Homo sapiens: one gene and its partners. The protein of the gene in region 2 interacts with the protein of the main gene of each other region in a pairwise test. Each region holds a gene or a part of one and is shown on either strand. Other genes may lie near its edges.

Region 1 (7,947 bases), on a different chromosome or scaffold from region 2:
AATTTTGAAAAGACAGTATCTGAGGTCCCAGCCCCCACCCTCTCCCCCAGAGAAGCCCCTGCTTCCCCTCCCACCAGCCCAGATTTTCTCAGAACCACAAGCCTCCCCGATCTAGCACTGCAGCCGTCCTTGGCAGTCCTTTCTGCTGTCTGACCACTGTAGGTCATGCTGCAGTCTCTGAGGTAGAGCAGCATCCTTCCCACATCCTCAGAGCTGGGGGATCTTACCCAGGGGTTCCACTGTGAGCTGGCCCTGAGAGGGTCCCTGTGCCCCCAAACTCTTAGCAGCTACGTCTCCAAAAAGCCAGAAATCTCAGACACTCACCAAGAATGGGCTGCTGCTGGTCTCAGGTGGCCAGATCAGGGCCAAATGCTGCCCCCTCTAAGGGCTCTCGGCAGCCTAGGTCCCTCACTGTGGCCAGCACTGAGAAGGGAGGGGGCAGAGAACAAAGGCTAGAGCAGGGCAGGGCTGCATTTCACCACCTGTCCAGTGGGCTGAGTCTGGCCTCTGTCCCGAACTCCCTCTGCGACCCCTGTCGCAGGTGAGTCCCTGTCTTTCCCTGAGCCTCAGTTTCCCATTTGTAAAGTGGGAAGGACATCTGTCTCACAGTCTCCAATTAGCTGATTGACAGAGAGGCTTTGTCTCTGCCCAGTGCCTCAGGCTGTGAAGGGACACTGGGTCCTCTTTTTTTACAGTCTGAACCCCTGGACATGCTGAAGAGGTGACTCATCTTGACCCCTTTACTCTCACTCCAGCCTGGAACTCTGGCACCCACACCTCGGAGGTGGCCCTGGGCACCCATGGCCAGCCACACAGCTGACACTGCCCTGTTCGGTGCTCGAGCCACAGCCTGTGGTGGGGATGGCTCTGGGAACCGTGGCAGGTGGCAGGCAGCAGGTTGCACTGGGTCCTGCCTCCAGTCCTGCTAAAAAGAAGCAAAATCTGCCACCCTTCCTGCCCTTGGGCTGCAGTAAGTTCTTCCAGCAGATTCCCAGGAGGTCCCAGGCTGGGGTGTGCATGAGACCTCTCTGCCCACCTCTGTCTGCTGGACCTGGTCCCAGCTTCCCAGCCTGGAGTTAGCCAAGGATGGGGGTGCCTTGGTCGGGAGTGGCTGCCAGGGCTGCCAGACCCAGCCCAGGGGCTGATTGCAGAGGCTGCACAGTCTCAAGGTCACCTCAGGACAACCCTCCAGGCCAGAGACCAAGGCTGCAGGGAAGGGAGGGGCTCTCTAAGGGAGGACCCCAGTAGGCCACTATTGCTGTCACTGTGGCTGAGGAATGCCACCTGGACGTCAGCCAGACAGGGGAAGCAGAACATGCCCAGACCTGGTCCTCAGACCTGGGTTGGAATCTTGGCTCTCCCACTGTGATCTGGGGCCAGGCTGCCCACTGGGCCGTCAGTTTCCTCACCTACAAAACAGCGTCTCACCACCTCCTGCCCAGTCAGTCCCAAAGATTTGAGAAGGGGCTCTCCATTAAAATATATCAATATATAATAGAATATCCAAGCATATACAAAGGTGGAGAGGATAATTTAACAAATCCCCACATAGCCAGTACCTGTCACCAAGCTTCAACCAATATCAACAGCCAGTGTCAACTCATGGCCACACCATGACTATGCCCACACCCTCTCCTTTAACCTCTGGATTTCATTTTTTTCTTTTTATTTTTTGAGACAAGGTCATGTTCTGTGGCCCAGGCTGGAGTGCAGAGATGCAATCATGGCTCACACCAGCCTTGACTTCCTGGGCTCAAACGATCCTTTCACCCCAGCCTCCCAGGTAGCTGGGACCACAGATGCATGTCACCACACCTGGCTAATTTTTTATTTTTTATTTTTGTAGAGAGGGCCTCACTATGTTGCCCAGGCTGGTCTCAAACTCCTCCCACCTCAGCTCCCAAAGTACTGGGATTACAGGCATGACCCACTGTGCCTGGCCACCTCTGGGTTATTTTAAAAACAAAGCTTCAGCATTACTCAATATACCCAGGTAATAAACCTGCACATGTACTCCCTGAATCTAAAATAAAAGTTGGAAAAAAAAAAAAGAAAAGGAATAAAAACAAAGCTGAGACATCATGTGATTTCACCTTTAAATACTTCATAATGAATTTCTTAAAGATAAAGATTTAGAAAAAACCGTAACTGCAATACCATTATTACACCTTAGAAAGTTAGCCATAATCCCTTAATATCATCGAATATCTGATCAGAATTCAAATTTCCCCCAATTGCTCATAAATGCTTTTTACAGTTAGTTTGCATTTGAATCAAAGGTCAACACATCATTTGGTTGATATATGTCTAAATTTCTTGAAATCTAGAGATTGCCCATCTTTTCTGGTAATTTTGTTGCTGTTGAAGAAGAAACTGGGTTATCTGTTCTGTAGAATTTCCCAATCTGGATTTTTGTCATTGTTTCCCTTGTATTTCCCGTAAACTAGTTGTTGAATCCAAGGAATCAGATTCAGGTTTGGTGTTTTGACAAAAACAATGACTAGTTGGGGTTCACAGGTCTGCAGGAGGGTCTGTCTCCTGAGTTAAGCAGCAAGTTCAGATGCAGTCGATCTGACATATTTATTAAAGAGCTCCCATCAGGTAAGAGCTCAAACTAAAAAACTCTTAGACAAGGCCAGGCGCAGTGGCTTGGGTGTGTAATCCCAGCACTTTGGGAGGCCAAGGTGAGTGGATCACTTGAGGTCAGGAGTTCAAGGCCAGGCTGGCCAACATGGTGAAACCCCGTCTCTACCACAAATACAAAAAATTAGCCAGGCGTGGTGGCAAGCGCCTGTAATCCCAGTTACTTGGGAGGATGAGGCAAGAGAATCGCTTGAACCCAGGAGAAGGAGGTTGTAGTGAGCTGAGATCGTGCCACTGCATTCCAGCTTGCGCAACAGAGTGAGACTCCATCTCAAAAAACAAAACAAAAAAACCTCTAAGACAAAAACATAGACTGGCATGAGCAGTGGGCAGAGGCCAGACATCTGTCTTTTTTTTTAAGACTGAGTCTTGCTCTTGTTGCCCAGGCTGGAGTGCAATGGCATGATCTTGGCTCACTGCAACCTCTGCCTCCCCGGTTCAAGCTATTCTCCTGCCTCAGCCTCCCTAGTAGCTGGGATTACAGGTGCCCGCCACCATGCCCAGCTAATTTTTGTATTTTTAGTAGAGATGGGGTTTTGCCATGTTGGCCAGGCTGGTCTCAAACTCCTGACCTCGTGATCCGCCCGCCTCGGCCTCCCAAAGTGCTGGGATTACAGGTGTGAGCCACAGTGCCCTGCCGGGAGTGGTGAATTTATATTTGAGAAAAGATCACTCTGGGTGCTGAAGGATGTGTTGGAGATGGAAGCCAGATGCAGAGGGCTGAATGCTAGCAGGCTCCATTTATATGGCTTTCTGGAAGGGGCAGAACTAGGACAGAAAGGAGGTTTCAGTTTGGGTAGGAGGGAGCATGGCTGATAGTAGGGGGCACAGGGACTTGTTGGGGGTGATGAGGCCATTCTGTGTCTTGGTGGTGGGGCTGGATGCATAACTGTGTGCATGCTGGGGCCAACTATCCGTCAGCTAGTCCAGGACTAGCGGAGGACAAGCATGCTGTCGGACTCATCTCCAACTCCCAGGCCCTGTTAATTACCTCTCTAGACTTAGACTGTCAGAAAATCTCTCTGGGATGATGGTCTCTTGTCTATTCACTTACTTAATTAGCAATGACTGGGCGCCTACTATGTGTCAAGCTGCATGGTGGGCACTGGAGACTCTCAGATAACCACTCCTGCCCTTGAGGAACATCCAGGCAGGCTGAGACATGGCCTCGATCCATTTGACACTTCCACCAAGGCCTCCACAGGTGCCCACCTCTCCAGGTCTCCCCTCTTTTTTTTTCCAGACAGGGTCTCACTCTGTCACTCAGGCTGAGTGCAGCGGCACAATCTCAGTTCACTGCAACCTTGACATCCCAGGCTCAAGGAACAAGGGATCCTCCCACCTCAGCCTCCTGAGAAGCTGGGACTACAGGTGCACACCACCATGCCCGGCTCATTTTTTTATTTTTTGTAGGGACAGGGTCTTGCCATGTTGCCCAGGCTGGTCTCAAACTCCTGGACTCAAGCAATTCTCCTACCTTGGCCTCCCAAAGTGCTGGGATTACAGGCATGAGCCACCACGTCCAGCTCTGGTTCCCTTCTTGATTCAGCCAGCCAGGCCTTGCCAGACAGAACTCATAGGTGTATCAAAAAATAATCTTTATTGTCACTAGTATAAAACAGAGCAGATCAACTGGCCTCTCGGTCTGTACAAAGTGTGGGGCGTGAAACCGCCTGGGCTGCCCCCACTTCTCCCATAATTCCCTGCCCTAGAGCAGCACCTCCAGAGCTAGGAGAAGGAGAGGGGGCCACCCAAGGCCTTCCCTTGAGGAGAGGGGTCAGGAGTGGACTGGAGTGGGGGCTGTTTTCTATCTGAGGGAGGCAAAGAAGCAGAGGAGAAAACTGGAGTGGCGGAACCCTCCCGCTCCTCATCCCGTCCCCTGTGGCCGCGCCCCAGAGTCCACTGGATGGGTGGAGGGGCGGCGGGCAGCCTGAAGGCGGGCTGAGGCATGAGCCAGTCCACGGCCTGGTCAGAGGGCCACCCGCGTGCAGCAATGGCGCAGCAAGCACGGCAGGATGCCGCGGTTCAGCTGGTGGAACTCCACGAGCTGCAGCAGGTCAGTGAAGCGGGTCTGGCCATCATCCATGCTGAAGTACAGGCGGCCCTCCTCCTCGCTCTGGGGTACAGTAAAGGGGGTGGAAGTTCAGGGAGGGGCCCGAGGCTTGGGAAGCTCCCTCCTGGGCCAGGGCCCCACCATTTCCTTTTATTCTTTTCTTTTTTCTTTTTCTTTTTCTTTCTTTTTTTTTTTTTGAGACAGTTTTCTCACTGTGTCATCCAGGCTGGAGTGTGGTGGTGCCACCATGGCTCACTGCAGCCTTGACCCTCTGGGCTCAAGCAATGCTCCCACCTCAGCCTCCTGAGTAGCTGGACTACAGGTGTGCACCACCATGCCTGGCTCATTTTTAAATTATTTGTAGAGATGGGGTCTCCCTGTGTTGCCCAGGCTGGTCTCGAACTCCTGGGCTCAAGCCATTCTCCCACCTTGGCCGTCCTAAGTGCTGGGATTACAGGTGTGAGCCACCGCACTCAGCCTCCCACTTCTTGTGCAGGGAAAAGGGAGACGCACTGGGGGCCAGGGAGCCTCTGGAGGGGCCTGGTGAGGAGGACAGGTTGCTGGGAGTCCTGTGTCTCATTGCAGGACTCCGGGGACGCAGGGAAGCTCACCGGCAGGATGAGATAATGCTTCACTTTCTGCAGGTGGCACAAAGAGAGGACAAAGCCCTGGGGGTTCCGCTGACTCTCCCGGACCAGGAACAGGCTGCCAGAAGACAGGAGATGGGGCAGCATTACTACCCAAGGACCATGGCTGCCACCTGGACCCCAGTCTCTCTTATCCCTGGGTCTGTTGCCCGGCCCTGCCCCTTACCCGTCTACCAAGCCCTGCTGTCCAATAAGCCGCTGGCTCTCCTCACGGGAAATGCGCCCGTGGAACCAGAGTTGGGTGCGGTGGATGGCTGTGGTGGGGAAGGACATGGGCGGTCACTTTGGGGAGGGGACCCCTATACCATCTACTCCCCACTGGGAATACAAAGAGAAGTTGAGGCAGCCCCCGCCCCAGGACTCGGGGCCGTCACCCACCTGCACTGAGGCTCGTGCCGGAGGCTGGCATGGGCAGGCTGAGGCGGTGGTTTGTCTTCTTCTGTGGAGCAGTGGGAGATACGGGAGAGTCGGGGCGTGCTTGGGGGCATTACCCAGCACCTCAGGAAGGTAGAGCACTTCTTCCCAGCCAGGGGCCTCCCCCCGCCCTCTCTTCCTCCCTCCTATTTCAGGGATCCCACCCAGAGAGTGGGTCCCCAGCACAAACACACACACACACAGCAGGCCTCACCCTCCAGGCCTGGGCCTCCTCCAGGGCCACACTCAGAGCCTCCCGGGGGTTCTCAATGACACGCCCAGCATGGCCAGAGAAGTCCATGGCCACCAGGGTATTATCTGAGGCACTTCTCTGGAGATGGAAGGAGAGGAGAGAGGTCAGAACAGGGCCCAGGTACCCGTAAGACAGGGCCTGCATACCCACCCTCCCATCCCCTTGGGCACACTCACCAAGGGTGGGGAGCCCAAACAAGATGGATGCAGATGGCGAGACTGTGCCTGCTGGTAATTCTTGTACAGCTGCACCCCGTACTGGGGGTGGGGAGAGAAAGAGAGCTTGAGGTCGAGAGGTCCTGGGGGCGTGGCTGTGACGCCCCCCTCAGACCAGGACTTGCCCAGACCAGGGCTGTGTTTCTGCCTTCGATGGGCACTTCCTATAACTTCAGGCTTGGACTGGGGGTTATCAGAGAGCAAGGCTGTGATGCCCTCCTCATTCCTGAGACTTCCTGAGGGCAGAGCTGGGGATCCCTCTGGCCAGGCCAGCCCCCCATGCCACTCCCAGGGTCTCACCTTGAAGAGGCGGAAGGCAGCCAGCCAGCAGGTGCGGCTCTGCTCATCTTCACTGCAGAAGATCCGAAGCCCCTTGTGGCCATTTCGAAGCTTGTTGGGCTGCAGAGAGAGGAAATTGACTGGTCCCATATCTGCCTTTAGGACCACATGTCTGCCCCTGCTCCACATAGCAGAGCTGAATCCAGGAGTTTCCAGCAGGCCAGGGTGCAGGGAGAGGAGTCTAGGTGTCTGAATTGGGGCTCAGAAGCCCCGGGCAGGATCCAGGGGCCTGAGCAGTTCCTGCTTCCCCAGGCCAGGGGCCAGGCCTGGCCAGGTCTTCACCTTGACACAGAAACCGAAGTCAGTGGGCATCCCGTAGAGCTTGCGGCCCTGCGTCACCACGTACACGTTGGACTCGTTCACATCTGCCACGTACTGCAGGTGCCTCGGATCCTAAGCAGCATGAGTGAGCAGGACTTGGTACAGGTAGATCCCGCCCACTATTACCTCCCCCCACAAGCCAGGTGGGGAGATTTCAGGACCAGAGAGGGGCAGGGGAATACCCAGGGTCACACAGCAAATAGAAGTAGAGCCAGGACTTAAACTAAGATCATCTTTTCTCCTGCTACCTCCCTGGGCAGGTGAGCTAGGCAAGGATGTAGGGAGAGATGGTAAACTGGAGGTGGCTGGCCTGGGGGGCCCAGGGGGAGAAGGGCTCAGAGGTTCCAGCAGAGAAGGGGCAACTTCTAAAAGGACCAGGGACTGGAGGGGCTGGGGCTGGTACCCTCAAGACCTTACCTTAGAGGTGCCCTTGGTGGAGTAATAGAGGCCAGATCGGCGCAAGAAGCAGAAAAAGCGTTTCCAAAGCTTCCGTCCTGAACCCCGCAGCTGCAGAAAGCCCTGGATCTCAGGAAAGCTGCCAGCATTCAGGAAGTTCTGAGCCAGAGGAGAGCAGAGGAGAGTGACAGGTCTGACCTCCTCCCTTCCCCTCTACCACCAGGATGTTTCTCTTTTTCTTTTTCTTTTTGAGACAGGGTCTCATGCTAGTGCGGTGGCACGATCACAGCTCACTGCAACCTCGACCTCCCGAGCTCAAGTGATCCTCCCACCTCAGCCTCCCAAGCACCTGGGACTACAGGCTCATGCCACCATTCCTGGCCTTTTTTTTTTTTTTTTTTTTTTTTTTGGAGAGACGAGGTCTCATTATGTTGCCCAGGCTGGTCTCAAACTCTCAAACTTCTAGGCTTAAGTAATCCTCCCGCCTCAGCCTCCCAAAGTGCTGGGATTATAGGCATGAGCCACCGTGCCCAGCCCACCCTCAGGTTTTTACAAGGAAATGCTCCACATGCATTTCTCGCCCCCATTTAATAGAAGAAACTGATGCTCAGGCAGGGAAAGTGACTGTCCCCAGTCACACAGGACTGTGATTTGGCTCTTTCTACA
Region 2 (8,023 bases):
AAACCTAGGCAATACCATTCAGGACGTAGGCATGGGTAAGGACTTCATGACTTAAACACCAAAAGAAATGGCAACAGAAGCCAAAATTGGCTAATGGGATCTAAGTAAACTAAAGAGCTTCTGCACAGCAAAAGAAACTACTATCAGAGTGAACAGGCAACCTACAGAATGGGAGAAAATTTTTACAATCTACCCACCTGACAAAGGGTTAATATCCAGAATCTACAAAGAACTTAAACAAATTTACAAGAAAAAATCAAACAACCCCATCAAAAAGTGGGCAAAGGATATGAACAGACACTTCTCAAAAGAAGACATTTATGTGGCCAACAGACACATGAAAAAATGCTCATCATCACTCGCCATCTGAGAAATGCAAATCAAAACCACAATGAGATACCATCCCACACCAGTTAGAATGGCAATCATTAAAAAGTCAGGAAACAACAGGTGCTGGAGAGGATGTGGAGAAATAGGAACACTTTTACACTGTTGATGGGACTGTAAACTAGTTCAACCATTGGGGAAGTCAGTGTGGCAATTCCTCAAGGATCTACAACCAGAAATACCATTTGGCCCAGCCATCCCATTACTGGGCATAAACCCAAAGGATTATCAATCATGCTACTATAAAGAAACATGCACACGTATGTTTATTGTGGCACTATTCACAATAGCAAGGACTGGGAACCAACCCAAATGTCCATCAATGATAGACTGGATAAAGAAAATGTGGCACATATACACCATGGAATACTATGCAGCCATTAAAAAAGGATGAGTTCATGTCCTTTGTAGGGACATGGATGAAGCTGGAATCCATCATTCTGAGCAAACTATCGCAAGGACAGAAAACCAAACACCACATGTTCTCACTCATAGGTGGGAAATGCACAATGAGAACACTTGGACACAGGGTGGGGAACATCACATACCGGGGCCTGTTGTGGGGTGTGGGGGAGGGGAGAGGGATAGCATTAGGAGATATACATAACGTAAATGATGAGTTAATGGGTGCAGCACACCAACATGGCACATGTAAACATATGTAACAAACCTGCGTGTTGTGCGTATGTACCCTAGAACTTAAAGTATAATAAAATAAAATAAAATAAAATAATTCAATAATTGGTTATTGTGCCAAAAAATACTTCCCTGTCAGTGAAACTGAATAGTTCTGGAGAAATATGCTTTCTCAACTATACACCCATCAACCAGAAGAACCCATGCTTGGTTTTAAAGTTAAGGATAGGTTTACTTTTTATTACTCTTTTGTTTGGTTCGAATATTTCCAGTGATTTCCAGGTCAAATGTTTACTTTGTTCATCACCATAAAAAAATTCCAAGACACATAGATTACACCAGGGCAGTCTTCTAGTCATCTAGAAATCAAATACTGAAACCCTAGGGAATCTGGTTCCATTCTTAGGCTTTATGTCCCATGTTGAATCCTAACAGCATTTGAAAGCCTACTATGTGCAAAACATTATAGGTTGTTAATAACTGCAATAGTAACATTGCATGTAAAAATATTACAAACTTCAGTGGACATCATGCACTATGGATACATATTCTACTAGAAGGAAGGATGTTTTCATATTCTCTTGCATAAACTTGCTGCTCTAGCCTATGGACAGATTATTTCATCTTAAAAGATAATTAAAACAGAAAAAAAAAATAATGGAATGTTTATAAACATATGCAATTGCCAATATGGTTTGTTGTTTTATTTTATGTTTGTTTTTTTTCCACAGGAGAGCAGAAGAAAAACTTATGGTTCATAAATGCTTAATCAAGTGTCGTTGATTCTCTAAAATTTCTCCTCAAAGATGCCTGGCAAAGTATCTCCAAGAGCTTTTAGCATTCTATAATCACGCATTCTGATTTGTTGCACAAAGGGAAAAATAAAATCTAGAATTGCTTAGACGGTAGAACTATTTACAGTATTTTATAAAACTGGGCTATATTAAGTACAGTGTTACAAGGTGGTTACTATATTGTACTATTTAGTAGATACTTTCTGATGTCTTTTAGTATATAACATTTGGTTTAAAGATGAGTATATTTTGAATATATTAATTATAAACACAGCATTTTGGTATTAAAATGTTGACCCTCAGATCCTTAGTCAAGATATAACTTTTACCATATTTTTCCTTTGGGGATAAAAGAACAAACTTGCACTATTATTATTAGCTTATGTAATAAAAAAATAAAATTTTATATTGTTTTATATTAAAAAAATTTAATATATGAAACAATTGAAGTTTTATGTTAAGCTTCTCTAATAATCACTTTCACAGAAATTAAGCTAATAAATAAATGTTCAAAATGATTTCATATAAAACTGTAGCTCTGAGTTAATATGTACAGCTAATCATCTTTTCATAATCAGTTTGTTTCAACTTTTCATGTAAACATACTAAAAATTCCTGGAATGCAGATCTGAATAATTACACATGAATTCTTTTTAATTTTTTATTAAAAATGAAAGAAACACAGCTAAACAATTTATTTACAATTGCACAAGGTTTGAAACAGCTATCCTATTCCTGTTAAAGCTTCACATTTAAAAATGTCTACATCATATGTGCTTGTACAAGGCTTGAGTATCAACCACAAATGTGACTTTAGCAGCTTTATTGCATAATGATCCACATAACGCTGCATTATTTGCTTAGTTTAGCCTACATCATAAAGTGCTATTCATAGATGGGAAATTAACAGCCTGCTAAACACTGAAGTTCTCCATGATATTTGCTACTTGAGTTGAGGGTAAAAAGCTAATTTAATGCTACCAGCCTGAGTAACAGATTTCCATTAAAAATATAACAACAAGGACAACCAAAAAAAACAGGCCTAAAAGTTTTGGTTACCCTGTTAAAACATGTCAAAAGCATTCCATAAATGATTACTGCTACAATGCATAAAAGTAGTTTCTGAATATTTTAACCTCAAAAAAATAAGTACTTTAAATAAAAACCACCTACTTGAAAGCAACACCTTTCAAAAACAGACACACAATTTAGATAGAATGTAATTCCTCAAATTAAAAGATATTTTAAAGGGTACACAGTCATTGTGATCTTAGTTATCATTTCTAAGTAATTAAATTTGTATTTTTACTTGCTTATATTAGAAATGCTTATTACCAATGAGAAACAGAAAATGCCACATAAGTGAACATTTAAATGTTACAAAAATTTATAATATATGTAACGCTACTAAAATATATAATGAACTTTTCAAACATGTAAATATAAATCAGGAAAACCTGATATGTAATAATTGGGCCAAAAATGAAAATCACAAAACACAGTAAGGGGGTAAAAGAATAAATATGACTTTTAATATCAGTCCATCTTTACCAATATATCTGAAAAATAATTCTTTGACATAAGAACAAATATTTTCACAGAATAAGAAAAACTAAAGATAAATTTCTCTGAAAAAAAGTATATAAAGTGAGAAGTTTAATGTGTTAGCTGAGAACTTTGTGTTTTCTGCAAGAAACCATGCTTACTACCCATGCTGTTAAATGAGTGTTATGGCTAAGCAGACTCTTAAAATGTCCTTAGCAATACAGTTTGTGGTCTTAACAAAACAAAACAGTAGTATTCCTTTTCCAGGCAATATATTTTTAATAGTTACACACTTTAAAATACATAATTTTCCACTTAAATATACTACCACTTTTATGGTGTTTTTCTTTTAACCTATCTAGAACTTTGTTTTCCTATTGAAAACAAATGCAAGACACATTGCTTAGTACTAATTCCTATCCATAAGGCATTTAAAAAATATCTTCTCTTAGGACATAAACATGATATAAAAATGAAAAGTCAAACAGAAGAGAATCATAATAAATACTTTTGTATCCCCCCCACCATAAGGAAAGTGTCAGCAACACCAGCTGACAGAAATAAATTAGATATCCTGTACATAAAGTAAAAGACAGTCCAGTTGCAAAGTTAACCACTTCAGTATTAACTTGGAAAGAACATCTTCACTTTCATCATTTGTGAAAGGCAGAACAACGACATGAAGACACAAGGCTGTTTAGATTTTCTGTATTTCAAGAAGAATCATACTCAAACACAAGTGGGGTGACAGAACACTCAGCGATATGTAATTAGTTACGAAGGTTAACGCTAAGGCATTGCTTTGTTTACAGTTTTTATCCTGAGTCACATCAGATGTTTCAACTACATGTCCTCTTGGTATTCCAGATATTTTGCTGTGATGGGTTCTTCAAGCTGAATTCCTCCACTGCCCATTAATGCAAATGCTGGATACAGTGTATGTGAACAGTCCACTTGGCGTTCATAAAGGCATTTCATCTGATCCATATCATAGAAATCTACTTTGCCTTTATCACAGTCAAGGAAAATCCCAATACTTGTTGGCATAGGGAGAACTCTATTTTCAGGTTCATTAGAAGAAGTAGGTGACTTGGGTATAAAAAATTTCTGCATGCCTATAGTAACTAAGGTAAATGGTTGTGAAGAATCAAAACAGGCATCCTCACTTCCACTGTCATGCCCACTGTCTTGCTCATATCTGAAACATAATACAAAGCATCTGTATCTTCAACAATAGATCTAAGTATCTTCAAAACATTTTCACAGGATAATATACATTGATGTAAAGTTAAAATAGTTTTTACATCAAAAGCTTTCTATTAAAACAAAATCAAAAACATAAAAATGACACATTACAATTTAGAATTATACCACAGACTCAGCCCCAAATTCCCTGTCATTAAACACTGCTTTAGTTATATACAGAAGTGAAACCCTAGAAAATCATTGATAATTTTAGCCTTCCAAAAAGTGAGGGAGCGGGCAGTGATAACTGGTCAAATGTTAAATTTTTATAGCACACAATCATGTACAATCATGTACCACAGAACATTTCAGTGAACAACAGACCTCATATACCACAGTGGTCCCGTAAGACTATAATGAAACTAAAATATTTCAGTTGGGTGCAGTGGCTCATGCCTGTAATCCCAGCACTCTGGGAGGCCAAGGCAGGAGGACCACTTGAGGCCAGGAGTTCCAGACCAACCTGGCCAACATGACAAAACCATATCTCTACTAAAAATCCAAAAATTAGCCAGGCATGGTGGTGTACGCTTGTAGTCTCAGCTACTTGGGAGGCTGAGGCATAAGAATCACTTGAACCCAGGAAGCAGAAGTTGCAGTGGACCGAGATAGCACCACTGCACTGCAGTCCTGGCAACAGAGCGAGACCCTGTCTTAAATAAATAAATTCATTCATTCATTCATTCCTATAGCTTAGTGACGTGGTAGCCACTGTAAGGCTGTAGTGTAACCCATTACATGTTTGTGGTGATACTGGTGTAAACAGTGCTTAAAGTTGTTACATAAAAGTGTAACACATACAATTATGTACATTATGTAATATTTAATAAGTGACTGTTACTGGCTCATGTATTTATTATGCAATGCTTTTATTGTTATTGTAGACTTACTCCTTCTACTTATTTAAAAAAATGTTAACTGTAAAACAGCCTCAGGCAGGCCCTTTAAGGAGGTTTTCCAGAAGGCAGCACTGTTATCCTAGGAAATGACAGCTCCATGTATGTTACTGCCCCAGAAGACCTTCCAGTGGGACAAGACGTGGAAGTGGAAGACGATGATATTGATGATGTTGACCCTGGATAGGCTATTATGTTTGTGTCTTCATTTTTAACAAAAATGCTTAAAATGTTAAAAATTTAAAAAATTAAAAAAAAAAACTTGTAGAACAAGGCTATAAAAAAAATTGGGGGGGGCCAGGAGTGGTAGCTCACGTCTGTAATCCCAGCACTTTGGGAGGCTGAGGAGGGCGGATCACCTGAGGTCGGGACCAGCCTGACCAACATGGGGAAATTTCATCTCTACTAAAAATACAAAATTAGCTGGGTGTGGTGGCGCATGCCTGTAATCCCAGCTAGTCGGGAGGCTGAGGCAGGAGAATTGCTTGAACCCAGGAGGTGGAGGTTGTGGTGAGCCGAGTTCATGCCATTGTACTCCAGCCTGGGCAACAAAAGCGAAACTCCATCTCAAAAAAAAAAAAAAATGTATATAGATGTACAATGTGTTTGTGTTTTAAGCTAAGTGTTCCTACAAGAGAGTTAAAAAGTTTTTTTAAAAATTGAAAGTTTAGGCCGGGCGCGGTGGCTCACGCCTGTAATCCCAGCACTTTGGGAGGCTGAGGCGGGTGGATCATGAGGTCAGGAGATCGAGACCATCCTGGCTAACAAGGTGAAACCCCGTCTCTACTAAAAATACAAAAAATTAGCCGGGCGCGGTGGCGGGCGCCTGTAGTCCCAGCTACTCGGGAGGCTGAGGCAGGAGAATGGCGTGAACCCAGGAAGCGGAGCTTGCAGTGAGCTGAGATTGCGCCACTGCAGTCCGCAGTCCGGCCTGGGCGACAGAGCGAGACTCCGTCTCAAAAAAAAAAAAAAAAAAAAAAAAAAAAAATTGAAAGTTTATAAAACTAAGGTTAATTTCTTAAAGAAGAATACATTTAAATAAATTTAGTGCAGCCTAAGTGTATAGTGTGTTTGTAAAGTTTACAGTAGTGTGCAGCAATGTCCTAGGCCTTCAAATTCACTCATGGATGCACCCAGAGAACTTCCAGTCCTGCAAGCTCCATTCATGGTAAGTACCCTATAGAAGTATACAATTTTTTATCTTTTATAACTTATTTTTATTGTACCTTTTCTATGTTTAGATACACAAATACTTACTGTTGCATTAAAATTGCCTACAGTATTACAGTACATGCTGTACAGGTTTGTATTCTAGGACCAAAGACTGTTCCACATACCCTAAGGGTGTAGGAGACTATTCCATCTAAGTTTGTGTAAGAACACTCTATGATGTTCTCGCAACAATGAAATTGCCTTGCAATATATTTCTCAGAACATATTCCTGTTGCTAAGCTAATACATAAATGTATAAGAAACTACAGGCCAGGTGCGGTGGCTCACGCCTGTAATCCCAGCACTTTGGGAGGCTGAGGCAGGTGGATCACCTGAGGTCGGGAATTCGAGACCAGCCTGACCAACATGGAGAAACCCCATCTCTACTAAAAAAAATTAGCCGGGTGTGGTGGTGCATGCCTATAATCCCAGCTATTTGGGAGGCTGAGGCAGAAGAATCGCTTGAACCCGGGAGGCAGAGGTTGCGGTGAGCCAAGATCGCGCCATTGCACTCCAGCCTGGTCAACAAGAGCAAAACTCCGTCTCAAAAAAGAAAAGAAAATACAAAGATAAGATGTATGCCCTAAACCAAGGATTACCAGGCTAAGTGAAATATATGAGCACTGTAAAATAATGCAAGAGAAAAAAGCATGTTTCATTCTCATCCTAAGAACTCTATTTCCTGGTTGGGATTTCATCATGGATGTATGAAGCAAACAAAGATTATGAAGCTTTTTCACCTTTATCATAAAACAATAAAAAACTTATATAAAATTTTGAAACATGTTCCCCATTTTTTTCAATATGCCTATGTTGCTTTTTATATATTTTGGATAATACTGCATCAACAACGTTTACTAGGTTTCTCCACTTCTAGTATTTCTCATGTTATGAACTTTTTAAACATTAATACTAATTTTCTATCAAGTGGACATGTCACTATGTTTTACTGTTAAAATTTTCAGCATTATATAAATTTTTTATCTTTCTGAAGAAAGCTTTTCCTATCATTCAGATTGTTAAGCTGGGATACTGTTCACATGAGTGGTCAAAAATTATTTTTCAAAGCTAGTTGACCTTATTCCATCTAAAAGAACTGAACTGTACAATCTTCATTAGTCAATCTCTTAAGAAACTGGAAGTCTTTGCTGCGGAAATATGTCTACCATGACCCAATTTTGAAAAGGACTTATGGGAAAGTTTAAAGAAACTGTGTCCCATAAGAAAAGAACAACTTAACTGTGAAGTATGACAATCAGACGCATTGTATTATATACGTGGGTAATTTTTATGACATAGGTAACATGT
Region 3 (8,023 bases), on a different chromosome or scaffold from region 2:
ACCACTCTGATCTCAATCTGAAAGAAAATTAGTTCTGCTCAAACTATCGGTGGAAGTAATCTATCAAACTTGATATTCAAAATGACGCATAATCAATATGTACTTACATCAAAAAGCTGTAAGAACCATCCCATTAAAAATGAGAATTGCTGACCATTTCACTCATTCATCAAACACACAGAGCACACCTGCTACAGCCAGGGTTTGCTCCTCCACTGTCACAAAAGGACGATCTAGGGGTGCAAACCCAAGCACGACCAGGTTCCCTGCATTCAGGAAGTCCACTGACTCAGCTGCACACTTCAGCAGTCCACAAACTCAAACAAAGGATAATGACATAACAACTCATACAACCAGTAAAGTGTTAACAGTGTTGACCACATTAGCTGACAAAGTTTGGCAGCAGAAAGAAATGCACCCCACTGAGATGTTGATGATAAAGTCAAGCAAAATGTAGATTACTTTGTTTGATCTCCGTAAGCACCAATTAAGGCGTGGATAACTTCCTGATATCGCTACAGCTTCATTAGCTAAAGCTAGGAAAAAGATTTAACTGTCCCCTTGTTGCAGATGTTAACATCAAAAGAAATTACAAATAAAACCATTTTTGAGTTCTTTACCTGTTTGTTTCCTTTCATAAAGAGCATCACAGAAGCTTTATTTGTCAGCACTTTGAGCCTAAAGAGAGAAAATTGATATAAAACGGCTCAGCTCAATTATGCAACACCACTTTTCCTCCGCTTCGTGAGTAACATGCATATTTGAGGGATGGCAGGATGACAGTTCACAGCTTTGAGTGGTATTAAACAAGCAAATGCGTTGACATTTTCCTTGATTTCATTCTCTCCCTAAGCCACTGTAAAACACAATATGGCTTTTAAGGCAACGAATGTTCCTTCAAGTTGCAATTTAAGCCCATCAACTCACAGTAATAAAAAAATAATAATAATAACCAATTCAGTAAGGAATTGTTCAATAAGGGGCCTATATATTAAGCCCATCCAAAACTTCCAGAACTAGATCTTGTGTGCACCATCTTCCATCATGATGCTGCATACCACTGTACACGTGTAAAGCTCACAAGGTCGGACTGCAGGGTGACAGCGTTAAACCTCAGAACATCAACTAATGCCAGATACTAAAATCAAATTCTCTCATCTTAACATGTTTTATATTTTATATAGTCTTTCAAACATCATAATCTAACATGCTGTCAGGAATTTTAATTATCTGTATACAGCCACAAGTTTAGTCACAAATCTCAAGAAAAGTCAGTGCTGGGACAACGGGTCACTAAAGAACCTAAGCCCCATGGGGTCACGCCACCATGTTCTCCCAATTCACAGCTCAAAAATCTCCTTAGAGGTTGGGCGCGGTGGCTCACGCCTGTAATCCCAGCACTTTGGGAGGCTGAGGCAGGTGGATCACGAGGTCAGGAGATCAAGACCATCCTGGCAAAACACGGTGAAACCCCGTCTCCACTAAAAAGTACAAAAGAATTAGCCGGACGTGGTGGCGGACGCCTGTGGTCACGGCTACCCGGGAGGCTGAGGCAGGAGAATGGTGTGAACCCGGGAGGCGGAGCTTGCAGTGAGCCAAGATAGCACCACTGCACTCCAGCCTGGGCTACAGAGCCAGAGTCCGTCTCAAAAAAAAATAATAATAAATATCCTTATAAACTCATCCCAAATGAAATGCATCAATCACGCACAAAGCTGTATCACTTACATTGCCAACCGAGTGGGATTAGCTCAAGTTCAGAAAAATATGAACAGATATAGGAATACAATGCTGACCCTGACAACCCAACTAACTAACCCAGTCACCTGGATACAGGGAACCACAGCTCACAAAGTACTGCCAAAATACATGTCACAAGTCCATGAACTCCACTTCCTACACTCTGCTCACTCGGAGCCCTTTAAATTATTACTCCAAATATGCTGAATTTTCCTTCCGACATAATTCTAGCCCGTTACCCTTTGGTGTCTGCAAGCACAGATTTAGAAGCAGCACATTAGGAAACGGAGGTCTGATGGAGACAAGGCCATTAACAGCGGCAAGTGCACTCAGCAGAGAAGGAAAATCAACTGAAGAGCAAATACAAGCATATAAAAAACACAGCTGTCTTTGGAGACCACACAGCCTCCATGGGCCAAGGGCATCACCAGGCTACAGGCAAGAACCACACATGAAGACGCCCAGAGTCAAAAAAGGGATGAGGAGTATCATTTTCTCATGAAGAACACAGGAAATGGTACCAACCACAGGACAGAATGCGGCACTCAAAGATCAGCCTGACATACGTGGATTGGACGCTGTTTATAGAAATTATTAATTAACGACAGACAAATGAGGTATTTATTATTATTAAACACTTTTAGAAATTCTCAAGATGTTACATGGCAAAAAAAAATTACCAAAGGAAGGTTTATCTTACAATCTCCAGCCCCAACTATGAATGGCTGATTGCTGATATAATAAATTCCTTTTTAAAGTTCTATATTAATTTTACTGCAATAAAAATCCCATTAAGTTGCCTTACACACCAAAGTCCAACATTTCTGTAAGAGAACGTCTCTAAAAGCCAAGTGAGATCCTTGATAAAACAAATACATGTTTCACACCTCCAAAATCTGTTCATGTAAGTTCTCGTGGTCTAGAAAGGCCATGAGAAGTGCTCAAAGCTTGTTGCGAGGTGATGAGTTTTTCACACTCACCACTTGTCACTCAGTGCTCTGGCGTTGGGGCAGCACCCGCAGCAGTCACCAAGGCTGCACCCAGTAAAACACGAGTGTGCTGAGGTTACGCCAAGGAGCAGTGACAAAACAACTGGACCCTGGCTCTGAAATGCAGAGAGGTAAGCAAAACTTGGTTGTTCCACAGAAACAATGACATTTCTATAAAAGCAAAGCAGATCCTCCACATGATCACTAAGTTGGTGCTAAAATTTCTCCAATACAAATTAGATTTGCCAAAGTTTGAATGGCTAATGTGACTAAACAATTATGACGTCTGGCATACCAAATCCTTGATTTCTACACAGAAAGAGCAATGCAAAACCTGAGGACTTTAAAATATTTTTAATATATTAAATGATAGGCTATTTGAAACCTTCTAAAACACTTACCTTTCCTCTAATTTGGGAGCTTTGGGACAAATTGTATCTAGTTCTTCAGATGCTTCTAGCTCCTAAAATAAGCACACATACCAGTTTTATGAAAAAAATTATTATAACATAAATCTCCTTGATCATACCATAACACAGATTATTGATCAATCAACTAATCAGAAATACTGTGTATTCATTGCAGGTTCTTATTAGTAAATATAGATTCATAAGAAATTTGTATCTTAGATTTATCACAACATTTTAAAAAGTATGCTCTAAATGGAATTTCTTTACAAAGCACAGACTTCTCAATTCTAACCTTAATTATATCAAGTCCTCCTATGAGCTCTCCAGAAACATAGAGCTGAGGATAGGTAGGCCAACTGGAATAGGCTTTGAGTCCCTGTCGAACCTCTTCATCTGAGAAGATATCAAAACTGCTAAACTGAATATTATGTTTGTGAAGAATTTCCACCATCTGCTTGCTGAAACCTGTACACAAAAAAAGAAATAAAGCACTTAACTTCTCTCTCCCAAAACACATACACATGATAATACATTAGTTCAGCGTACATATCATCTAAAAGACATAGACGCCTGCCTTATTTTGCTGGTGATTTAATTAGCATGGCTGAATAATATACAAAGAGAAAATAAATTCCTGGATCCCCTTATTTGACCTTGAACCATATCACACACTCAGATATGACTTAACTTTTTGACACAACTGTGACTACTGAAAAAAAAAAAAAAAGTGGTGTGTGTATTTATTAAAGTTATTCTTCAATATCATGGACATTTTTTGTCACAGGAGAAATAGCACTAGCCAAAAAGCAGAGACCTGGGGGTGATGGTGCACACCTGTAATCCCAGAGACTGGGGAAACTGAGGCAACAGGCTCACTTGAGCCCAGAAGTCTGAGGCTGGAGCGACCTATGAGATTGTCACTGCACTCCAGCCTCCAGTTTGAGTGATAAAGCAAGACCTTGTCTTTAAACAAAACCAGAAATCTGAATCTGACACCTGCTCCCTCCACCCACCAAGGTGACACATGATGAGGCCATGGGTGGCCTCCGCTCAGCACTTTCCTACTAATCAGGAGACTGACCTGATGCTCTGACAGTCCCTCCCAGCCTTTCTGTTATGAATCTATGAGAATCAATTCTGGGCAGATGAAAAAATTCTACAATTGTTATTTTTAACTACTACTTGACTATACTTAAAACCCAATGCTGTTGCATTTCTACTGCCATTTTACTACTTCCTGAGTTCCCACTTCAGTAGTTCTCAATCTTCACTATCTCTAAGTAGGATAAATTAGAAATCAAGAAGGCATGTGTTCTCCTGTAGTCTAAAATACACACAGTACATTGAATTTTAAAGCTATCTTCTCTGTTGTTATATATGAACCATCAATAGATTGACGGTATTCTTTCTCATCTCATGTCATAACTTGACAGTTTCTTTTTTAAAACTATTTACATTCCCTAAAGTATGTAATGTAATTTTTTTACTACACTATAGCGACAATTTTATGTTCCATGATTTTATTATACTTTTGTGACACATTTTTATTCTGTACTTTTTTGACATCATCTTATTATGACATTATAACTGAAGAATAAGAGTGTGAATATCAGTCTTTTATAAACCTATTAGCCTAGTCTGAAAAAAAAAGTATTTTTCTTTCCATAAGCTAATTCTTCTCCATTGTTCCCAATACTATGTAGGGCCCTACTCTTTCACGCCTCATTCTTCTTCTCAAACACAGTTGTAATTCACTGGAAAAGAACCTATTCTTCAGATTCAAAATTTCTATAAGACTTAGCAGTGTCAGCAATTGTTTTTAAATAAAATCAAACCATAAAATTCAATATAAGATTAATTGCAAGAATGGGCTTTACTGATGTCACCCAAAATCATATTTACTATTAAAACATGGATCTACAAGTGAGCTCTAAACATTTTCCAAATCTGCAGTTTATTGAGATGAAGCACTAGTATTTATTTGTATAGCATATAAGTTGCTTTTCCTACATCTGAAGTGTTAAGTTCATGTACAGCCTGAAGTAAAACACTGATTCTGAAATTTTTTTATTCATCTGGGAGTTCATTAGTAAACAGCTAACGGCTGATTGCTGATGGTTATTCTGTTGCCAATATATTAACTCATTTTTACTGTAACTGGCTGAGAAGAAGCTTTATTTTAGCTTTAGGCAATTACATGCAGACTAGAAAGATTGATTGGTAGTGTTTCATTTTTAAGAGTTAAAGTGGCAGACTAGAAATGTTACGCTTAAGGATAAGATGGCAAGAAGGCTTTATTCTAGTAACAAAATATTTACACACCTTTTTTTAAGAAAAATGCATGCATGCAATAAAAATATTTAAATGTAGAAAAGTAATGTTTAACTGCCACAGAATCCCCATTTCCACCCCCAGTCATTTCTACTCATGACATGAATAGGTGCCTAACACCGCATCTCATCACTACCTAACAATAAACCCTAAAAAACATCTCTGAAACCTGATTCTGTGGCTGATTCAAAAGTAAGAGCCCGGCTGGATGACTCTCACTGCAGAAGGAATATCTGACTATGCCTCAAATACCTTTTGCTTTGCTAAAAGCTTTGTTAACTGAAATAGTTATAAGAATTCCCAAATAATTAACCTGCTCAAGGATTTAAGATTCTGTTTAAGATGACATATACCTCAGTGCTTCTGGAAACTCTTCCTAAAACAAGCATTTTCCCATCTTCATGAGGAGCACAGAGTAAGGACAATCCAATTCTTTTCAACTGAGACCCTATCTACACGTCAGGCTCATAACACACCATACAATTCTGCAGGTAGAGCCCACATGAAGGATAAGAAGATGGAGACATGACCTGTGCAGGGGTTAGGCTGAGTCCAGTGGGGCTCCAGGAGAGACCCTAAAAATGGCTTTCAAGGTTTTCTAGATATAAAATTTAAATGTTATTCATTCATGTTTTTCTGATTAGCAGAAAGCAAGGTGGGGACAAACTAATCAAAAAACAAACATCAAAATACTCCGCAGTGGGAGTTCAGTGGTGTTAGCAGAGATAGCACTTTCAAAGCTAATTTGGTGCAAAATAAGGAAAGAGCAGCCACGTGCGTGTTCACAAGATGAGATGGCCAGTGCTTTTATAAAGGGAGCTTTGCCTACGCCCTTCTCTAAAATGCCAGAAGAAGAGCAAAAACAATGCTCCACTAACCAGGCTCAGAAAGGAACAGCAGAGGGTCGAGGTGACTTATGTTCCCATAAGAAAACAGTTTAAAAATATTTTCCAATTAATCCTAAGTATTTTATTAAAGAACAGCAACATTCTTAAATGATCTATTTACTATATGTGACAGAAAGACATGAAACAGAAAATATCAGGAAACAGAAAAACCCACTGAAAATGTAGTTATAAAAATTATATAGAAGTACTTTAAAAGAAGAAACTGTAACCATTCAACCATATGTATCTCAAAATATTTATTGTCTTTTATTAATTAAATAACTATAATACTACGTTTTCAGATGGCTCTGAAATGTGTTTTGTTTTGTTTTGAGACAGAGTTTCACTCTGTCACCCATACTGGAGTGCAGTGGCTCGATCTCGGCTCACTGCAACCTCTGCCTCCCAGGTTCAAGCAATTCTCCTGCCTCAGCCTCCCAAGTGGCTGGAATTACAGGACTCCACCATGCCCAGCTAATTTTTGTATTTTTAGTAGAGACGGGGTTTCGCCATGTTGGCCAGGCTGGTCTCGAACTCCTGATCTCAAGCGATCCGCCCACCTCAGCCTCCCAATGTGCTGGGATTACAGGCATGAGCCACCACGCCCAGCCCTGAAATATTTCAAAGCTTCTTTTTTATTCTGTTATTTGTACAGTCTTCCAAATCTCACTCCATTATAATAAACATAATTTAAATAAGTTTAATATAAATATAAAAATGCTAGCAGTATATTTTAAATTCAGTTTAATAAAGTAAAAGGTAAGCAGAAAAATTAAAATGTCTAAGTTTCTCTCTAATTTACTTGAATAATCATACAATATCTACACTGAAAAGGCCCTCCAAGATTGGCTCCAACAGCCAATCTTGTTCCCAACAGCACTAGAAGGAATTAAAGGCACAAGGAGGGTACCTGACTTGTCCCCAAAGTTGCTAAGGCCGCAGGGGTGGGCCTGAGGCTCGCCTGGCATGACACCCAGTGCAGCACACTTCCCAGGACATCCTTCTCCTCTGAGCACTCCTTCCCCAAGCTTCAGTGTTGCCACCTGCCTTTTCATTAGGTTTATCATTCAGAAAAGACTGAGACTGCTGCTGTTCAACCCCAAAGGAGAGAATACTGTAGAGATTTCACTGTAGGTGTGCTTCACCCACATTTCACAGCCAGTTCTACTGTACCTGAGATCTGAATGAAGGTGCTGAATACAATCCATTCAACTGAAGTGGTAAGTTCCCATTTAGTGGCCACCGCACAAAGTACAAGAAATAATTTTCATGTTTCATGGAAGAAGGTGAATGTGAACCATTTGCAACCCCCGTTAAAAACAAAATAACAAACGCAACAGAGACTATCTGTTGCTACCTTTAGTTTAGTACAGACTAAGTTAGCTTTGCAATACACAAATAGCAGGCATTATCTGACACATAAATACTGGCAGGGAAATTTTTTAGGCAGAACTAAGAGATACTTTTAAGACAGAATTCATGGTGGCTCACGCCTATAATCCCAGCAGCACTTTGGGAGGCCAAGGCAGGCGGATCACCTGAGGTCAGGAGTTTGACACCAGCCTGACCAACATGGACAAACCCTATCTCTACTAAAAATACAAAAAAATTAGCCGGGCATGGTGGTGGACACCTGTAATCCCAGCTACTCGGGAGGCTGAGACAG
Region 4 (8,023 bases), on a different chromosome or scaffold from region 2:
AAAAGGCTGGCTCATGCTTGCAATCCCAGCACTTTGAAAGGCCGAGGCGGGTGGATCACCTGAGGTCAGGAGTTCAAAACCACCCTGACCAATATGGAGAAACCCGTCTCTACTAAAAATACAAAATTAGCTGGGCATGGTGGCACATGCCTGTAATCCCAGCTACTCGATAGGCTGAGAATTGTTTGAACCCGGGAGGCGGAGGTTGTGGTGAGTCGAGATTACGCCATTGCACTCCAGCCTGGGCGCCAAGAGCAAAACTTCGTCTCAAAAAAAAAAAAACAAAGCCGACCCAAACTGTCCAAGATTCCCCTCACAAGATTATGTACTTGTAGGCTTAGTTTGATGTTTTTGTTTTTTTGTTTTTTTTGTTTTTTTTTGAGACAGAGTCTCAGTCTGTCACCAGGCTGGAGTGCAGTGATGCGATCTCGGCTCCCTGCAACCTCCACCTCCTAGGTTCAAGCAATTCTCCTGCCTCAGCCTCCCGAGCAGCTTTGATTACAGGCGCCTGCCACCACACCCAACTAACTTTTGTATTTTTAGTAGAGATGGGGCTTCACCATGTTGGCCAGGCTGGTCTCGAACTCCTGACCTCAGGTGATCTATCCGCCTTGGCGTCCCAAAGTGCTACGATTACAGGCATGAGCCACCACGCCCGGCCTCTAGTTTGAATTAATGATCTGATCAAGTACAATTCACAGCTGTGAGAACCAAATGCCATATAAAAGTGACTGTTTTTTTAATTTTTAGAGACAGGGTCTCACTATAGTGCTCAGGTGGGAGAATGCAGTGACTATTCACAGGCACAGTCATTGTACACTACAGCCTTGGACTCAAGCAATCCTCCTGCTTCAGCCTTCCCAGTAGCTGGGACTGAAGGAATGAGCCACTGCAACCAGCGAAAGTGAGCATTTGTTACCCAGTTTCCTTCTTTCGGAATACAATTAAAAGAGTTATATAGTTCCAAGCTTTGCTGCCAAGGAGAATCACTAATTTATTTACAGGTTTAGATTCAAGAATAGCAAAAGGGTAGTAAACATCCAGCAGTAAGACCATGAAAACATTATATCCATCTATATATTACTCTTGGTGATCTCTTACTGATATGACTTTAACCAATCAACCTTCTACATACAAATGCTACAATGGAAATGTCCAACCAAATTCTGAATTTTTAAATTAATCAACTTATCAGCAACTGTCTATGCAACATAGTCATCAAATTGAAAAGCAAAATCCAGGCTGGGCACGGTGGCTCATGCCTGTAATCCCAGCACTTTGGGAGGCCAAAGCAGGTGGATCACGAGGTCAGGAGTTTGAGACCAGCCTGGCCAACATGGTGAAACCCCATCTCTACTAAAGATACAAAAAATTAGCCGGGCATGGTGGCGCGTGCCTGTAATCCCAGCTACTCGGGAGCCTGAGGCAGGAGAATCGCTTGAACCTGAGAGGCGGAGATTGCAGTGAGCCGAGATGGAGCCACTGCACTCCAGACTGGGCGACAACATGAGACTCCATCTCAAAAAAAAAAAGAAAGAAAGAAAGAAAGAAAAGCAAAATCCAGATTACCAAAGTTATACTGGCACCCTTTGGACAAAACAACTAAATTTACTTTTTGCTAGGCTAAGTGACAGCCCAATTGCTTCTGAGGTAACACAAACCAGACACGCACTCTGTATCTAGTTTTCTATTTATATTACCTCAACTAAGATTTTATAATCCAAAAAACCTTGAAAAGTGTACATGATAACTTGATATATGAAAAAAAGTTGCCTAATACTAAAAAGGAAATGCATAATTCACAACATTAATAACATGATTTTGTATGTAGGGAGTATCTCCTACCTTCACATATAATGCTTCCCTAAAAATGGTTTAAAAGTTAGAAACCAGGAGATTGAACCAAAGACAAAGATTACATTCTCAATTAATTGATATCCTAAATATGGATCCTCCAAGTGCTACAGAACAGGTGCCTTTTTTGAGTCCACTGACAGACCCGCCAACCATGCCTATCTTCTAGAGAATGGCAAAGTCTTCCAGAGAATGGCAAAGTCCAGCCAAGCCTCTCCCTTCACAAGGGCTACCTACTCCTCTCTCTGACTTCTCTGCAGGGACAGGTCAGAAGATCAGCAGCAACTATTCACACTGCCTACATAACGTCCTAGATACCTACAAAGCAGGGAGAGGCAAAAAGGATCCTCCTTCCCTCTTAAGCATATGGCTGCCATGTAGGGCTTCCCCAGGCTCTTGAGGATTTGGGTTCTACTGGTCATGGGCAGATACCCCCTTGAGCACCAGCCTATAAACAACCAGACACCTTCCCCAAGCATCTGGTGAGGTACAGAGAAGAAATTACAATAACCATAGTACCTGGGCCCCCAAAAGCTTAATTCTTCTCCAATGTGATACCCAATTGAGAATCACTAATGCAACAACAGCCTCTCAACAGACTACTGTGTTTTCAAAAGTTTCTACAATGCACTCGAATTACACTTCAGCATAGAAAATAACAAACTGGAATCTTTTTTTTTGGAGACGGAGTCACAGTCTGTTGCCCAGGCTGTAGTACAATGGCACCATCTCAGCTCACTGCAACCTCCACCTCCCGGGTTCAAGCAATTCTCCTGCCTCAGCCTCCCAAGTAGCCGGGACTACAGGCGCAAGCCACCACGCCCGGCTAATTTTTTGTATTTTAGTAGAGACAGGGTTTCACCATGTTGCCCAGGCTGGTTGGTCTCGAACTCCTGAGTTCAAGCAACGCCCGGCTAATTTTTTGTATTTTAGTAGAGACAGGGTTTCACCATGTTGCCCAGGCTGGTTGGTCTCGAACTCCTGAGTTCAAGCAATGCCCGGCTAATTTTTTGTATTTTAGTAGAGACAGGGTTTCACTATGTTGCCCAGGCTGGTTGGTCTCGAACTCCCGAGTTCAAGCAATCTGCCCACCTCAGCCTCCCAAAGTGCTAGGATTACAGGCATGAGCCACTGCGTCTGGCCAAGACACTGGAATTTATATGCTCAGGGCACCATTCCTGTGTCTGAATACCAAAACAGTCTACTCACCAAACATACTATCATTGCTCCAAACTAAAACAGGTACAAGCCAGGTCACCTTTTTGTTAGCCAAACTAAAAGTTCCAGCTGTCAGTAATATTAATTTTTTTTGAGACAGGGTCTCACTCTGTTGTCCAGGCTGGAGTGCAGTGGCATAATGATGGCTTGCTGCACCCTCAATCTCCTGAGCTCAAGCACTCCTCCCAAAGTGGTGAGATTACAAGCATGAGCCACTGAATCCAGCTTTAATTTTTTTTTAGCAACACACATGTAAATGTCCATAAGATAAATTGTTTATAATTTATCAGAAAGAATGTAACAACAACTATTACAAATCAATGTCTAATTTTATTATGGCAGTGTCCAATAACCTATCAAATAACTCTTAAGATGCCAAAAAAAAATTTTAAGCACCATTTCACTAAAAATTAACTTAAGGCCAGGCACAGTGGCTACCCCTGTAATCCCAACACTTTGGGAGGCCAAGGCAGCCAGACCGCTTGAGCCCAGGAGTTGGAGACCAGTTTGGCCAACATGGCGCAACCCTGTTTCTACGAAAAATACAAAAGTAAGCCAGGTGTGGTGGCACACGCCTGTAGTCCCAGCTACTCGGGAGGCTGAAGCAGGAGGATTGAGTTCAGAATCCGGAAGTTCGAGGCTGCAGTGAGCTGTGATCACACCACTGCACTCCAGCCTAGGTGACAGTGTGAGACTCGGTCTCAAAAAAAAAAAAAAAAAAAAAAAAGCTTCAAAAAATTCCAGGCTGGGCGCGGTGGCTCACACCTGTAATCCCAGCACTCTGGGAGGCCAAGGCAGGGGGATCACCTCTCTACTAAAAATAAAAAATTAGCCAGGCGTGGTGGCACATGCCTGTAATCCCAGCTACTCAGGAGGCTGAGGCAGGAGAATCGCTTGAACCTGGGAGGCAGAGGTCGCAGTGAGCCGAGATCATGCCATTGCACTCCAGCCTGGGCAACAAGAGTGAAACTCCGTCTCTCACACACACAAAAATTCCAGGAAAGCATGATATCAAAGGATATCCTAACTCTTATAGTCTGTTTCCCATTCTGTCACTGAGCTGCTGTTAGTTCCTTTCACCTGAGTTTATTCCATGTGAAAATTGAAGATATTATTCAGACTTCAACAGAGTGCTCCAGAAATATTTATCAACTGCTGTAAACTTCACTAGAAATGCTAAAGAAATGTTAAAAAAAATCTTATCAATACTTTACAAAGAAAATAATACCATCAACAAAAAGTGTGCTTACCTATTCACAAAGATATAGAGCCTTACTAGCAAATATAAAAATAAAATTGCTGTTTGTGACTATGATCCTAAAGTGTAATGTGTTTTTTTTTTTGTTTTTTGAGATGGAGTCTTGCTCTGTTCCCCGGGGTTGGAGTGCAGTGGCATAATCTCGGCTCACCACAACCTCCGACTCCCAGGTTCAAGCAATTCTCCTGCCTCAGCCTCCTGAGTAGCTGGGATTACAGGTGTGCACCACCACACCCAGCTAGTTTTTGCATTTTTAGTAGAGATGGGGTTTCGCCATGTTGGCCAGGTTGGTCTTGAACTCTTGACCTCAGGTGATCTGCCCACCTCAGCCTCCCAAAGTGCCAGGATTACAGGCATGAGCCACTATGGCCGGCCAGATTCCTAAAGTGTAATTTCAAAGGGCCACAAAACATTTTTTTTAGACAGGGCCTTGCCCTGTCACCCAGGCTGGACTGCAGTGGCATGATCTTAACTCACCACAACCTCTGCCTCCTGGGCTTAAGTGATCCTTCTGCCTCAGCCCCCAGAGTAGCTGGGATTACAAGTGCATGCCACCATACCTGGCTAATTTTTTATCTGTTTTGGTAGAAATAGGCTTTTGCCATGTAGCTCAGGCTAACAAAAATATTTCACAATAAAAATTTAATTTACTAATTTCAAATGGGGGTGGGGAGAGAAGAGTAGCTACCAAATCAGCTTTAACCAAATTCAGCTAGAAATCAATGCTTTAGGCCAAGCGCCGGGAGGCAGAGGTTGCAGTGAGTTGAAATCGCACCACTGCACTCTAGCCTGGGCAACACAGCCAGACTCCGTCTAAAAACACAAACACAAAAACAAACAAAAAACCAGATTGGCCAGGCATCGTGGCTCACACCTGTAATCCCAGTACTTGAGAGGCAGAGGCAGGCGGATCACCTGAGGTCAAGAGTTCAAGACCAACCTGGCCAACATGGCAAAACCCTGTCTCTAACTAAAAATACAAAAATTAGCTGGGTGTGGTGGCAGGCCCCTGTAATCCCAGCTACTCGGGAGGGTGAGGCAGGAGAATCGCTTGAACTCAGGAGGCAGAGGTTGCAGAGAGCCAGTCTGGGCGACAGAGCGAGACTGATTCTGTCTTTAAAAAAGGAAGATAAAGTGTTTAAATCATTATTCAAGTGAAAGGTATCACAATCATTGTGGTAAAATTTGTTTTATTGATAAAAAAATTAACAAAATTCATATACTATAAAATAAGGTTAATAATAAAAAATAAATCAGTGCTTTAAGAGCATGTAATTTAACATGATTCCTTTAAAATACACAAGTGAGGCCAGGCGCTGTGGCTCATGCCTGTAATCCCAGCACTTTGGGAGGCCACGGTGGGCAGATCATGAGGTCAGGAGATCAAGACCATCCTCGCTAACATGGTGAAACCCTGTCGCTACTAAAAATACAAAAAATTAGCCAGGCTTGGTGGCGGGTGCCTGTAGTTCCAGCTACTCAGGAGGCCGAGGCAGGAGAATGGCGTGAACCCAGGAGGCGGAGCTGGCAGTGAGCCGAGATCGCGCCACTACACTCAGCCTGGGCGACAGAGCGAAGACTCCGTCTCAAAACAAAACAAAACAAAACAAAACACACAAGTGAAACAACCGTTGTCACAATTTTATTTGGGTGTGAAATATGGACCATCATCAGTAAACATTAAATTCAAACTACGTGTTAAACATGGCTGGGCACAGCGGCTTACATCTGTAATCCCAGCACTTTGGGAGGCCAAGGCCAGAGGATCACTTAAGCCCAGGAATTTGAGACCAGCCTGGCCAACAGTGAGACCTCATCTCTACAAAAAAAATAAAATTAGCCAGGCAAGTGGCCACGACTGCAGTGAGCTGAGATCACACCATGAACTCTCATCTGGGCAACAGAGTGAAATCCTGTCTCAAAACACACACGTGCGCATGCGCTCAAAACACACACACACACACACACACACACACACACACACGCACGCACGCACGCGCATGCGCAAACCCTACCACATGATCTAGCTTAGCCAAGAGAAAAAAAAGCGTATATCCATACAATGTTCATAGCAACTTTACTGGTAATAGCCCAAAACTGGAAATAACCCAAATGCCACCAAGCATTAAGAGGTGAATGCATAAACAAATTGTGGTATATCCACATAATAGAATACTACTCAGCAATAAAAAAAAAATGAACTAAATAACATGGGTGAATCTCAGAATTATAAGTGAAAGAACCCACACAAAAAGAGTATGTACTGAATGATTCCGCTTATATATACAATTCTAGAAAATGTAAAATAATCTACAGTGACAGAAATGAGATCAATGGTTGGAAGGGAGGGAGGGAAAGATTACAAAGGGCCACAAGAAACTTTGGGGGAAGATAAATATGTCTCCTCTCTTGATAAGGATAAGCTTCATGGGTGATACATAAAATTAAAACTTATCAAAAGTATCACTTTAAATATGTACAGTTAACTGTATGTCAATTATACCTCAATAACAAAAAAGAATCCAAGATGCCAAAACTAATTCTACAGTTCCTGTTAGATCTATCTGCTCATAAATATATTTAACCTACCGACTTGCAGTATGCACTCTGAGAATACAAAATTATGCCTAAATTGAGGATCACCATTATCACAAAAAACATCAAAGTTTAAACAATGAGGAAATTAGAATTCATCTTTAATCACTATGCCAGGCTATTTCAGTGCCAAAACGATACCAACTAAAACACAACACAACAAAACAAGAGCCCGCTGAGTGTAGGGCTCTGAGATTTTTAATTAAATATTTTAATTCAAATGTTTACCTTCTTTGATCTAGAATCCCATTTCGGGAAAACAGAAATAACCCAAAGAAAAGCCTATGCACAAAGATGTTAATTTCAATCTTATTCATCAGAGAAAAATGGCAAAGAATTAAATCAATGGCACAGCCATGGGATGGCATATTACATGAGCTACTTTTTTTTTTTTTGAGACTGAGTTTCGCTCTTGTTGCCTAGGCTGGAGTGCAATGGCGCAATCTCAGCTCACCGCAACCTCCACCTCCCAGGTTCAAGCGAATTGATTCTCCTGCCTCAACCTCCCAAGTAGCTGGGATTACAGGCATGCGCCACCACGCCCAGCTAATTTTGTATTTTTTAGTAGAGATGGGGTTTCTTCACGTTAGTCAAGCAGGTCTCAAACTCCTGACCTCAGGTGATCTGCCCACCTCAGCCTCCCAAAGTGCTGGATGTATAGGCATGAGCCACTGTGCCCAGCCTAGTCATTATTATTTTTTTTTTTTTGAGACGAAGTCTCACTCTGTGGCCCAGGCTGGAGCACAGTGGCGCTATCTCTGCTCACTGCAAGCTCCGCCTCCCGGGTTCACACCATTCTCCTGCCTCAGCCTCCTGAGTAGCTGGGACTACAGGCGCCCGCCACCACGCCCGGCTAATTTTTTTTTTTTTGTATTTTTAGTAGAGATGGGTTTTTACCATGTTAGCCAGGATGGTCTCAATCTCCTGACCTCATGATTTGTCTGCCTCAACCTCCCAAAGTGTTGGGATTACAGGCGTGAGCCACCGCGCCCGGCCCCTAGTCATTATTTTTAACTGGGAAAAACAGTTGCAAAAATATTAAGCAAAAACAGGGCAGACACATACAGTATGATCAACAGGTTGAAAACAATACATCCT

The links.
Region 1: the proteins of TRIM36 (region 2) and GRB7 interact in binary tests that used the Homo sapiens proteins (3 or more experiments, as listed by UniProt).
Region 3: the proteins of TRIM36 (region 2) and GLRX3 interact in binary tests that used the Homo sapiens proteins (3 or more experiments, as listed by UniProt).
Region 4: the proteins of TRIM36 (region 2) and UBE2H interact in a two-hybrid assay, tested with the Homo sapiens proteins (one large-scale study listed by BioGRID and IntAct).

What each region holds. Positions count from the first base shown.
Region 1 is NC_000017.11:39,743,563-39,751,509, reverse strand, and holds the end of GRB7 (growth factor receptor-bound protein 7), read right to left. Parts: intron 7,441-7,947; coding exon 7,303-7,440; intron 6,958-7,302; coding exon 6,847-6,957; intron 6,625-6,846; coding exon 6,526-6,624; intron 6,409-6,525; coding exon of another isoform or gene 6,268-6,408; coding exon 6,187-6,267; intron 6,089-6,186; coding exon 5,972-6,088; intron 5,783-5,971; coding exon 5,722-5,782; intron 5,598-5,721; coding exon 5,510-5,597; intron 5,402-5,509; coding exon 5,308-5,401; intron 4,760-5,307; coding exon 4,613-4,759; 3' UTR 4,225-4,612; downstream 1-4,224. UniProt on the Homo sapiens protein: Adapter protein that interacts with the cytoplasmic domain of numerous receptor kinases and modulates down-stream signaling. Promotes activation of down-stream protein kinases, including STAT3, AKT1, MAPK1 and/or MAPK3. Promotes activation of HRAS.
Region 2 is NC_000005.10:115,122,298-115,130,320, forward strand, and holds the end of TRIM36 (E3 ubiquitin-protein ligase TRIM36), read right to left. Parts: intron 4,561-8,023; coding exon 4,206-4,560; 3' UTR 2,475-4,205; downstream 1-2,474. UniProt on the Homo sapiens protein: E3 ubiquitin-protein ligase which mediates ubiquitination and subsequent proteasomal degradation of target proteins. Involved in chromosome segregation and cell cycle regulation. May play a role in the acrosome reaction and fertilization.
Region 3 is NC_000010.11:130,162,088-130,170,110, reverse strand, and holds part of GLRX3 (glutaredoxin-3), read right to left. Parts: intron 3,605-8,023; coding exon 3,432-3,604; intron 3,193-3,431; coding exon 3,131-3,192; intron 679-3,130; coding exon 621-678; intron 1-620. UniProt on the Homo sapiens protein: Together with BOLA2, acts as a cytosolic iron-sulfur (Fe-S) cluster assembly factor that facilitates [2Fe-2S] cluster insertion into a subset of cytosolic proteins.
Region 4 is NC_000007.14:129,938,438-129,946,460, forward strand, and holds part of UBE2H (ubiquitin-conjugating enzyme E2 H), read right to left. Parts: intron 1-8,023. UniProt on the Homo sapiens protein: Accepts ubiquitin from the E1 complex and catalyzes its covalent attachment to other proteins. E2 ubiquitin conjugating enzyme that transfers ubiquitin to MAEA, a core component of the CTLH E3 ubiquitin-protein ligase complex.